2 separate regions of the Homo sapiens genome follow, and region 2 is reported to be linked to region 1. The links are microRNA targets in miRTarBase. Many come from high-throughput screens and were not tested one by one. Region 1 holds a microRNA gene; the other region holds the end of a gene's coding sequence.
Evidence for each region. The annotated mature microRNA hsa-miR-6715a-3p reads CCAAACCAGUCGUGCCUGUGG and lies in region 1 at 3,707-3,727, opposite strand. An mRNA with a match to its seed (bases 2 to 7 or 8) in the 3' UTR can be bound and repressed. Matches are read on the target gene's strand: a 7mer-m8 pairs with bases 2 to 8, a 7mer-A1 pairs with bases 2 to 7 and ends in A, and an 8mer does both.

Region 2: the mRNA of POLDIP2 is a reported target of hsa-miR-6715a-3p. Seed matches in the 3' UTR shown: 7mer-A1 at 1,202-1,208.

Annotation. Positions count from the first base shown.
Region 1 is chr10:112,298,018-112,303,386 of GRCh38, reverse strand. MIR6715A (microRNA 6715a) reads right to left here and starts at 3,775; the gene lies at 3,697-3,775. It overlaps TECTB (tectorin beta), which reads right to left. Exons shown (of 11, transcript NM_058222.3): 8 at 5,156-5,318; 9 at 3,823-3,895; 10 at 1,254-1,286; 11 at 1-124. The coding sequence ends at 75. MIR6715B (microRNA 6715b) reads left to right here and starts at 3,699; the gene lies at 3,699-3,775. RefSeq lists an enhancer at 722-1,016.
Region 2 is chr17:28,343,653-28,349,021 of GRCh38, reverse strand. POLDIP2 (DNA polymerase delta interacting protein 2) reads left to right here. Exons shown (of 11, transcript NM_015584.5): 11 at 791-2,389. The coding sequence ends at 905. It overlaps TNFAIP1 (TNF alpha induced protein 1), which reads right to left. Exons shown (of 7, transcript NM_021137.5): 7 at 2,013-4,658. The coding sequence ends at 4,422. It overlaps LOC124903963 (a long non-coding RNA gene), which reads right to left and starts at 792. Exons shown (of 2, transcript XR_007065687.1): 1 at 693-792. RefSeq lists enhancers at 3,324-3,827, 4,331-4,834.

The sequences.
Region 1 (5,369 bases):
GCAGCACAATAAATGTGTTTGTCATTCGCTGAGGACTATTGTGGGTGGAGGAGCGGCAGCTGCCTGGCTAACTCCTATAACACGGCACAAATCCCCAACATCATGATGAGGTGGTGGAGAACATCTGTGGACCAGAAGGGGAGGGAGATGGCACTCAGAGACAGTTCTACAAGGGTAAAGCCAACTCAACAGAAGAGTTAACTCAGGGGTCTTCATAAAATTCCACACATTTTAGACAAAGTCGATTTTGTTCATCCCTTGGGGATTCTGTAGCTCACATTTATCAGTACAAAGAACCTGACAGATAAACCTAGGTTGTGGACCTCTGACAAATAGAAATCAGTGATGGTGCATGGTACTCTAGGGCTTTCAGTGTAGAACTTAAAAACGATGAGAATCTAGGATTGGAATTTTAAAAGTTGATTTACATGATTCTCCTGTAATGATGAGAGCAAAATCTGTCTGTGAGATTATTAATAAGTGAACTGTCTTACCCCATCTCCTCATGTAGTTGCTTCCTTCTTATCATTCAGGTGAGATCTTGGGTCTTAGCTGAAATGTTTCTTCCTCTAAGGGGCTTCCCTGGCTGCTCTCTAAATCACGTCCCCCATTGAACCCCAAATACTCTACACATATTGGCAAGGGAAGGGGCCTTGTCTGTCTTGTTCACGGCAGTAGCCACAAGACCAGTTCCCAGTACAGTCATCATAATCATGGCTGACCCTGACTGGGTGTTTGCTGTTTGCTGGGCATTGTTCAGTGCCCTTAGCTGTAATTAAATATCTATACCACAGCCATGTAGATAGGGGCAATTATTAGCCCAATTTCACAGAGGAAACTAGGGTATGGAGGAGGGGTGAGGTCATTGCCCAAGGTCACTCAGTTAATAAAAGACAGAGCCATAACAAGAATTCAAATATTTGTTGAATGAACAGATCACTGAAAATCTTGTTCTGTAAATGTTGGAATCCAAGGGAAGCCATCTGGGGATGGCTTTACTAAGACTTGGGGAAGTGAGGTCCAGTTCTGCTTCATCCGATTTACCTTCGGTTCCTCCCTCTCTTCAGAGTTCAGGGGCTGGTCAGAGGGAGACCTCTTGATCTCGCCCCCTCTGCGCCACTCAGGTGTGCTTTAAAGTATAATTTTCAATCCTTAAAAGTTTTGCCGGGGCCAAAGTTAAGCTTCTCTTAAAACACTCTCTGCCTTTTAACAGCATAGCCCCACGAAATCCCAGAAGTGTCTCTTTTCCTTACCTGAGAAGCTATAGAGACTGGAAAATCCCCTGCCTGTAGTGAGTAAAGAGAGAATGCAGAAAGTTTAAGAAAAGATCATGGAAAGGAGAAGTCTCAGAGTGATGTTTCTACAACACAAAACCTGGCTGGGGGCTGCGGCTCACACTTGTAATCCCAGCACTTTGGGAGGCCCAGGTGGGCGGGTCACTTGAGGTTGGGAGCTCGAAACCAGCTTGGGCAACATGATGAAACCCTGTCTCTACCAAAAATACAAAAATGAACCAGATGTGGTGGCACGTGCCTGTAATCCCAGCTACTCAGGAGGCTGAGTCAGGAGAATTGCTTGAAGCTGAGATCACGTCATTGCACTCCAACCTGGGCGACACGGTCTCAAAAAAATAAATATAAATAAATAAATAAAACACAAAACCTGACCACAATCCTCCCCTGATTAAACCATCAGGTGCTCCATTGCCTTTCAGACAGTTTATACTGGGGGTTTACAAAGTTTCATCTCACAACGCTTTCTCTCCAAAGCAGGGGTTGGTAAGCTTTCTGAAAAGAAAAAAGTAAATAGTACATTTTGTCAGCTTTGCAGGCCATCCCATCTCTGCTACCACAAATCCACCTGTAGTTGCAGTGCACTGCTGTAGACAATATCTACATGAACGAGTGTTGCTGTGTTCTAATAAAACTTTCTTTAAAGGCACTGAAATTTGAATTTCATATAATTTTTTTTTTTTTTTTGAGACAGAGTTTCACTCTTGTTGCCCAGGCTAGAGTGTAGTAGCGTGATCTCTGCTCACTGCAACCTCTGCCTCCCAGGTTCAAGTGATTCTCTGGCCTCAGCCTCCCAAGTACTGGGACTACAAGTGTGCACCACCACTCCCGGATAATTTTTGTATTCTAGTAGGGACAGGGCCAGGCTGGTCTCGAACTCCTGACCTCAGGTGATCTGCCCGCCTTGGCCTCCCAAAGTGCTGGAATTAGAGGCATGAGCCACCATGCCTGGCCCTGAATTTCACGTAATTTCTACATGTCACGAAATATTGTTGTTTTGATTCTTTTTTTGAACCACATAAAAACGTGAAAACTGTTCTTAATTCCCAGGCCACAAAACCAGGTGGCACCTGGGCCTTGGCCCTTGGCCATAGCTTGGTGACTGTCCTCTAAGATAGAGCCGCTACAGCTTCCCGCCTTCCCACAGGTTTTGCCCACCCTTCATGTCACACTATCCTTCAGGTCTCACTTGGAGATTGTCAGCAGAGCTCTTCTGCAAGCCCTGTACTAGGTTGAATCCCTTTGCTCCATTCAGGATGAATATCCCTTATCCAAAATGCTTGGGACCAGAAGTGTTTCAGATTTCAGATTTTTTTTTGGATTTTGGAATCTTTGCATTATACTAGTTGAGCATCCCTAACTGGAAAACCTGGAATCTGAAATCTAAAATGCTACAATGAGCATTTCCTGTGAGCATGACCTTTGAGCATCATGTGGGTGCTCAAAAAGTTTCAGATTTGGGAGCATTCGGATTTTGGATTTTCACATTAGTGATGATCAACTGTGCAACCATGGCACCAGCCCACTGTCACCCTCCTTAACAGTAATTTCTCTTTCCCTTAGTGTCTAACATCTCTCTCCTTGCTAGACAGTAAATCCCTTGAGGACAGGGCCTGCTTGGGTCACATTTATTTCTGAAATCCTAGTGCCCTGCCAGGCCAGGCAGTGCTGGATACTCAGTAAAGGTTTTTTGACTTGCACATGACATTCTCATGACATCTCATTTTTCCTTCCTTCCTTCCTTCCTTCTTTCTTTTCTTTTCTTTTTTCTTTCTCTTTCTTTCTTTCTTTCTTTCTTTCTTTCTTTCTTTCTTTTCTTTCTTTCTTTCTTTCTTTCTTTCTTTCTTTCTTTCTTTCTTTCTTTATTTCTTTCTGTCTGTCTGTCTGTCTCTCTTTCTTTCTTCTTTTTCTTTCTTTCTTTTTTTTTTTTTTGAGACGGAGTTTCGCTCTTGTTGCCCAGGCTGGAGTACAATGGCGCGATCTCAGCTCACTGCAACCTCTGCCTCCCAGATTCAAGTGATTCTCCTGCCTTAGCCTCCCGAGTAGTTGGGATTACAGGCGTGCCCCACCAAGCCCAGGTAATTTTGTATTTTTAGTAGAGGTGGGGTTTCACCATGTTGGTCAGGCTGGTCTCAAACTCCTGACCTCAAGTGATCTGCCCACCTCGGCCTCCCAAAGTGCTGGGATTACAGGCGTGAGCCACCGAGCCCGGCCCCATGACATCTCATTTTCTATTATTATTGTTCACTGCATGCTCTGTTTGGAAGCTCAGCACTTCCTGATTCTTTGGGGGTATTTGAATTTAGGGTGCAGTTAGAACTTTCAGAGTAGATAACAAACCTCAACTCCTTCGTTTGGCTTGAGCTGTTCCCCACCCCTGGCTGGAAGACTCCAGGAGCAGGTGAAGGTTGTGCCCACAGGCACGACTGGTTTGGCAATTCAGTAAAAATGCTCAAACCGGCTGTGCCTGTGGACGCAGCCCAGCGTGAACTCAACCGTTTGGAAAACAGAGGAAAACAGAGACGCTTACTCCGCAGGGAGAGCTCCACGACCAGGACTCCCCCGGTCTGGTCTCGCAGGAGGCGCTTCCGTTTATCGCAGGTCTGAAGACCCAGAGAGGCAGACAGGAGAGAAGCGGGGAAGGTGGGATGATGCGTGAGCAAAGGGGAGAAAAGAGAAAGAAAAGATATTTTAAAAAGGTCACAAATGGGGTGGAGTCACAATTCCCCAGTCAACAGAGATGAGTTACCTTTTTAAAAAATAACCCAGAAGACACACTGTTCATCCCTTCTCCAACTTGAATACAAAGAGAAAGCTTTACTTTGTTAACTCTTCAAGCCAGAGGGAATCCTTCTGGAAGAGGTCATTGAGTGTGGAAGGGATTGATCCCATTTCCTTTGATAAGGCTTCTACTTACCACTCTCACCACAATAATTAGAGAAGTGGACACTTGCAATTGTATTCTGGTTCATTTTCTTTTCTTTCTTTTTAAAAATATGGCATTGATACTTATCCTTTGATCAACTGTACAGTGTCTCTCCCCTCCTCTCCCTGGCTCTGCACTCTCTGGTTTCTTTCCCTTTTGCTGTTTGTGCTCATAAAGAACCATTTTCTGGCCAAATGAAACAACAGCAATAGAGATTATGACCTTATTTTTGTTGGTTACTATAGGCTATGTGGATAGCAGCCTCTTTGGAAACACCGAGGTCTCCAGTTGAAAGAGACCAGAAAGGAGAACAGTTTGAGATTTGGCATGTCTAAGTGTCTAAGTGGTGGTTCTCAGGCTTGAGTGAGCACCGGCATGACTGCTGGCTTGTTAAAGCACAGCCTGCCCAGGCCTTCCTCTCACGTGGTCAAATCAGCCATGATCCAGTGTCGGGAATTTCTGCAGCATCTCTCTGAAGTCACAGAGGTGAACCCTCGGGCTGTTCAGTCAAGACTAAAAACACCCACCTTTTGAGTTATTTCCACGGCCTGTCCCTGCCACCTAGACCTTGAATTTCCCTTGCCCTTTTCACTTCTTCCAAGTATTTCCAAGTCTGTTATCACTTTCATTTACCTACACTGCCCTCTGATGAGGGAAGGGCCATCATTACTTAACACACTTTGCTTAAGGATGAGAAAGCAGGTCCCAGCAGGTTAGGCGACACATGCCAGACCATGTGGGTTGTTGGAGGCAGGGCAGATAGGGCCCTGAGCATCTGCCCTCACGAGCATCTGCCCTTATACTCAGTGCCATTTCCTCCAGATGTCCTCAGCACACAGCTGCCCTGGCCTGGTTATGATCTCCCCACTCAAACTCCAGCTCCTCCAATACTGGCACCCTTTAGGTAACATTGTCCTTCTGGAGAGAGGCAGCTCACCACTGGGCAGGAGAGTTTCTCACTGTCGCAGATGAACGTCTCACAGTGTAACCACACCTTGGAGAGTTTGGGGATGTTCTGGAACCGGAAAGCATTGAATTGGAAGGTTGCCCTGTGATCTCTCCCATTCTCATGCACGAGGACGGTTTCATCCGTGGGGCAGCTGAGGCAGATGGGGAAAGAAGAGTGAACTGTCATCTCCTTGAACTCCAGC
Region 2 (5,369 bases), not on the chromosome of region 1:
AAAAGTGAGAGCTTAGAGCTTGCCATTAACTCTGGGCCAAGTTACATTCTTAGAGGGAGCCTTATCTGCTATATTGTTGTGTGGGACTTGTCTGATTTTCTATTACCGCCTGTTTCCCAGTACCCTGTGATTTGTGGACTGAGGACTTAGGCTAAAGAGGTCTGGTGATTTGATGCTGCAGAATTGCTTGTATAGTTGGGTTTTTTCCCTTGGTGTTTCACTCCTTTACCTGAAAATGCAGTTGGCTAGCTTATGCAGTATGTATCTAAAGGCCAGAATCTGGACAGCTGTGTTTTCCTTTTTTCTTTTGTGAGATGGAGTTTCACTTATTGCCCAGGCTGGAGTGCAATGGCACAATCTTGGCTCACTGCAACCTCCGCCTCCCAGGTTCAAGCCATTCTCTTGCCTCAGCCTCCCGAGTAGCTGGGATTACAGGCATGCGCCACCACGCCCGGCTAATTTTGTATTTTTAGTGGAGACGGGGTTTCTCCATGTTGGTCAGGCTGGTCTCAAACTCCCCACCTCAGGTGACCTCAGGTGATCTGCTGGCATCAGCCTCCCAAAATGCTGGGATTTCAGGCGTGAGCCACTGCAGCTGTGTTTTTCTTTTCATGGATAACCATGAGGGGCTCTTGGGTCTCTGGACCAGTCATCCTGTCATGAGCTAGAGATAGAAGAGAGCTCAGGCTCACATGTCCTCTGTGGCTGGCAGCTGAGGGCATGGGGCCATCCAGATCCTTAGGAGGCCTCAGCCCTGGCTCCTTCTAAACCAGCTTCTTTCTGACTGTAGGGGCACGTTCCGCTTTGAAAGACCTGATGGCTCCCACTTTGATGTTCGGATTCCTCCCTTCTCCCTGGAAAGCAATAAAGATGAGAAGACACCACCCTCAGGCCTTCACTGGTAGGCCAGCTGAGGCCCCAAGTGCCCAGGCTTGGTCACCGGGAAGAACAACTCTCATCCCACAATTGCTGCAGAACTCTTCTCTCCCCATCATGGGCCACAGTGGGTCTCTTAATTTGATTGTGGGGTTCTTTTTGTGGGGAGGGGTGGTATAACTTTTCTTCAGAAGACCCATGTGGGACACCTCCAAGGCTGGCCTCCTCATAAGCCCTGCCTACACCATGTTCCAGTAAACCTCTCCACCAAGGAACTGTGTTCAGCTGCCACAGGCCTGGAGGAGTTTCCTGGCCTGTCACGTGAGGTTTGATCAGTAAACCAGTGCACGCTTGGCCACCCTTGCCATTTCTGCTCCCAGAGTCTCAGGCTCCCCTTCTGACCCAGTGTGCGCCCTTGACTGCTTTCTTTGCTGCCCTTCCAGGGAGCTGCCCCCCTGGTAGGGCATGTGCCTGTTTCCCTCTCAGCCTGGAGGCTGGCTGGACATCTCCTAGGGTCACTGTGCCTCTCAGCTAGTTGGCGGGGGTGCTGGACTGGACTCTTGTTCACTTTACCTTCTGCCAAATGCAGAGAGGGAGGCCAGTGTCAGGGTCGGAGTGGCCTGGCTCTTAGCACTGACCGACCATTGCCATTTCTGGCCTCGCTAGGCCCAGGAGAGGAGGGAGGCAAGCCAGTCGGGTTTCCTGGAGCAATGGGTGTGCCAGCCCTCAGCATGACTCTGCCAAGCATCCAGACCACAAATGCAGGAATTTGGCTGAGGAGCAGCTTTAGGTATGGATTGATGACTAAGTCAAGCTACTTCCTGAGCTTCTCTCAGATTTCCAAGAGCCAGAGATGAATTGTGCTGCATCTTGCCCCAATTCTTAGGATTTCTTTTCCTCCGCCACTGCAGTGATTGTTAGAGGTAGTTTTCTTGAATTAATATTAAATCACAGTTCCAGCCCTTGTTATTCTTGTCCTTAGTCCTCCAGGGGGAGCTGGGGTTGCAGGGCAACAGTACAGTCGCGCTTACGACCTGGCTAGAACACAAGGTCAGATGATAAACAGAAGCACAGGAACTCAGCCCATGGCCGCAAGCTGGTCAAGGCCTGCTCACTGTAAACATGGCTCTGTACCATTGAGTTTAACACAATTTTATTAGAAATTAGTGTTTGCTTCCATCACTTATGCTGAGCAACCAAATATTACAGTTATGTGATAAAGGAAAAATTCTTTCCTGCCCAGGACCTGCGCCATCCTTTAGGCCGACCTTGGTCACATACCAAATTCAATAAAACCCAATACTGGCCTGTGTTGTTAACAGCAGGCTGCCAGGTTTCTCAGAAACTGACAAGAAAATCTGACCTTCATCCATACTTTGTTTACTTACCCCTGGGCTGCTTGGAGTTGAAAAATGCACACAGCCAAGAGTTGCTTTCTGAATAGGGCTGGAAACTTTCAAAGAAAACCCCCAAACTTTTAAGTCACAAAGTCTGATTAAAGAAGCTAAGATCATGTCAGTGAGTTCAATGTTAGTATTTTCCTTAAGACCAAGGAGAGATTTTCAGTCAGAGAAGATAAATGCCCAGTCCCAGACTACTGTGCTTTCTCGGCAAAAAAGACTGAGACACTGAGGATGTGAATGTCAAAGTAGTAAGCAGGGACTAAAGGGGATGGGGAGGTCAAAAGGCAAGCATCACAACACCTCAGTGGGGAGCTGGGAATTTGAGTGTTAAAGGACCTCAAGAGGGCAGCTGAGAAAATAGGCCAGTGGTCTCAGGCTGACGCATTCCAGTCTCTGTGGGAAAGTCATAAAGCCAAAGCCTGAATTTGGCCAAAGAAGTGGATTTGTCTTTATCTTGTTACCTCAATGAGGGCTGGAAGAACTAGTAGCTGATCACCAAGGTACCTGACCTGAGAGTCTTAGTGCTGTTTATACATTCAAGACTGTGACTAACATAAAATGCCTAATTAGAAAGTCACATTTCCCCTGTCCCGCCGTCATGTCACTTCAGGTCCTTGTGTCTAACCCTGGGTCTGGCATTTGCCCATAGGCTCTGTGGCATCAGCTATCATAAGAGTAGTCAAGAGAGATGAACTTGATAACCTGTGTTCTCTCCAAAGAGCAGAAAGTGGGTACTATACGTGGCTACGTTGCTTTGTTAGGCTGGCAGAACAGTCCCTCCCTGACAGCATTCCTTTGGAAAATAATTCAGATAAGCTGAATTCTGGTTTGGCCAAGCCAAACAAAAAGGAATGAAAACCAAAGCCCTAAAGAGGAACTCACCTCCTGGCTAGTGCTTGGCATCTCCATGGCTGAGTTACCCAACAAGGAGTGAAGGCCTTCAGGGTGCTTCGGTTGCTCCTGTCATCCCGCGCTCAGAGACACCACTGGGCAGAACCGCCATCCCAGCCAGCACCAACCAAGAGCATAGATGGTGTGGGCAGGGAGTAGATGTGTGGCCAAGCATGTGCCACCTCTGTAGGGGCTGCTGGGAGTTTGCTGTCCTCAGCTGATGGGCATGCCAGCCAACACCATGCAGTGCCCACGGGCTCCACGGTCTTCCTGCCGTGGCTCATGTTTCTGGCCCATGTGACAGCTCTTTGGCTTTACCGTATGTGAGGACAGCATGGCTGGAAGCCAAGGGTACTCAAGAGAATCACAAAGAGCAGTCGTGCTAGACCTAGGAGTCAGTGATGTGACTATGATGTGGGGGTAAAATGTCCTTTCTCACAGGCACCCTGTGAGGACTGCCGGTCCCAGCTTAGCCATCCTTCCCTCCTCGGTGCACTCTGAGCTGCTGGCCAGGCTGCAAAGCCAGAGCTGCTCTGTCGGATGTTTTTTTTTTATTGCTTCCTCTTTATCCCCTCCCTCAGATTGATTCTGCAGGGAAGTGGGGATTAGGGTAGAAAGACATGGGTCAAGGAGATTATCAACCTCCTGAATAACAGTACAAAGTGCTTTAAAGAAACAGATCCCACAGGCATGGAGAAGGGCCAAGGGTTCTGTCATATGTAGGGTCTTGGCACCCTGGAGGGCAAAAGAAATGCTCAGTTTCCTCATTACTAGATTTAGAATTATTCATTTCCTAGATTATTTTTTAAAAACCAAACTTATCAAGCCTGTGCTTAAACACCTTAGGAAAAAAGACGTCCCACTTTCTGCACCAGGGCCTCTACAGCACCAGAACTGCCTTTCCCCCAGCTGAGGCCTAAGGGGCAGTAGCCTTCTGCACAGGGCCTAGGGGAAGGTTCTCAGCAGGAGGTGGGTCAGTCCATATGCCCCAGGGAGCAGAAGCAGCTCCGTCGGGCAGGAAGGGTGATGGTGAGCAGATAGGACAGGACGCAGTCTCCAGAAGTGCTCAGGGGCAAGGCAGGGGAATGTGGTCCCTCCTCTGCCCAGACCCTCTGACCTCTGAGCAGGGCCTGTCATGCCTCTGGGTGCTAGAGCAGAGACCCAGGCAGCAGCAGCATGGGGTGGCCAATGGGGCGGGTTCCACAGGATGGGAGATAGGGCCTCCCGTGCCCTGACTCCCTGAGGGTCTGGTCAGTCGCGATGGGTAGACTGGTGGCCGAGCTGCCGGTCATCGTAAGTGCTGTAGCGCTTGACGTGGATGCGGCGGACACGGTCCCGCAGTTCAAAGGTCTCCTCATCTTCACTGGGGGAAGCCTGGCTGCGGCTACGGCTTGTGGCCTCCAACAAGGAGTTGTCGGGGACGCGGGGAGTCTCATAGAGTAGGACGTTGAGTGTCTCCTCATAGATTCGGGCCTCTGGGAATTCCACCTGGGGTTAGGGAGGAAGAAGGTGGAGCAAGGTTTCATCTTCAAGAGGAAGCCATGCGTCAGAGCGGCTGGCCCTGAGGCTCCATAAGGCCTCCGCTACCTCTCATAAAACAGGTGGCGGTCCGTCTCCAGGGAAAGCCAGCCTCCCTCCGAAGGCGGGGTGAGGGGATGTACTCTACAGACATGAGGACAGGGAAGACCAACATCCTCCACACCCCTGCCCCAGCCTGAGACCAAGGGACTAGTGGGCATAGAGGGTGGGCCAGAGCTAGGTCCCAACACAGCTCTACCACTTGCTAGCTGTGGAGCCTTGGGCTGAACCCTTCTGGGCTGCAGCTCCCATATGTACAAAAGGTTGGTTCAGCTCAACCCCTGAGAGTTGCTGTCAACATTACGGGAAAGATGTGATTGCTTAGCAGAAGATTGGCACACAGCAAACCACCAAGCAGAGGCATACACAGAGCAGCTGCTATGCTGAGTGGTTATGCTGCCTTTCTCTGCCTGCCTGACGCAGTGTGTCACCGGCATGACCTGCCTGGAGGAAGGAGAAAGGGAAGGCAGTCAAGCACCTGAATTCTAGCCAGACCTGCTCTGTTGGACTGAGCTTCTGTTCACTCATCTGTCACATGGGGAGAGTGGCTCTAGCCCTGCGTGTCTCACAGGCATGTTGTGAGGGGTCACACGAGTTCATGAAAGACAACACACTTAAGAA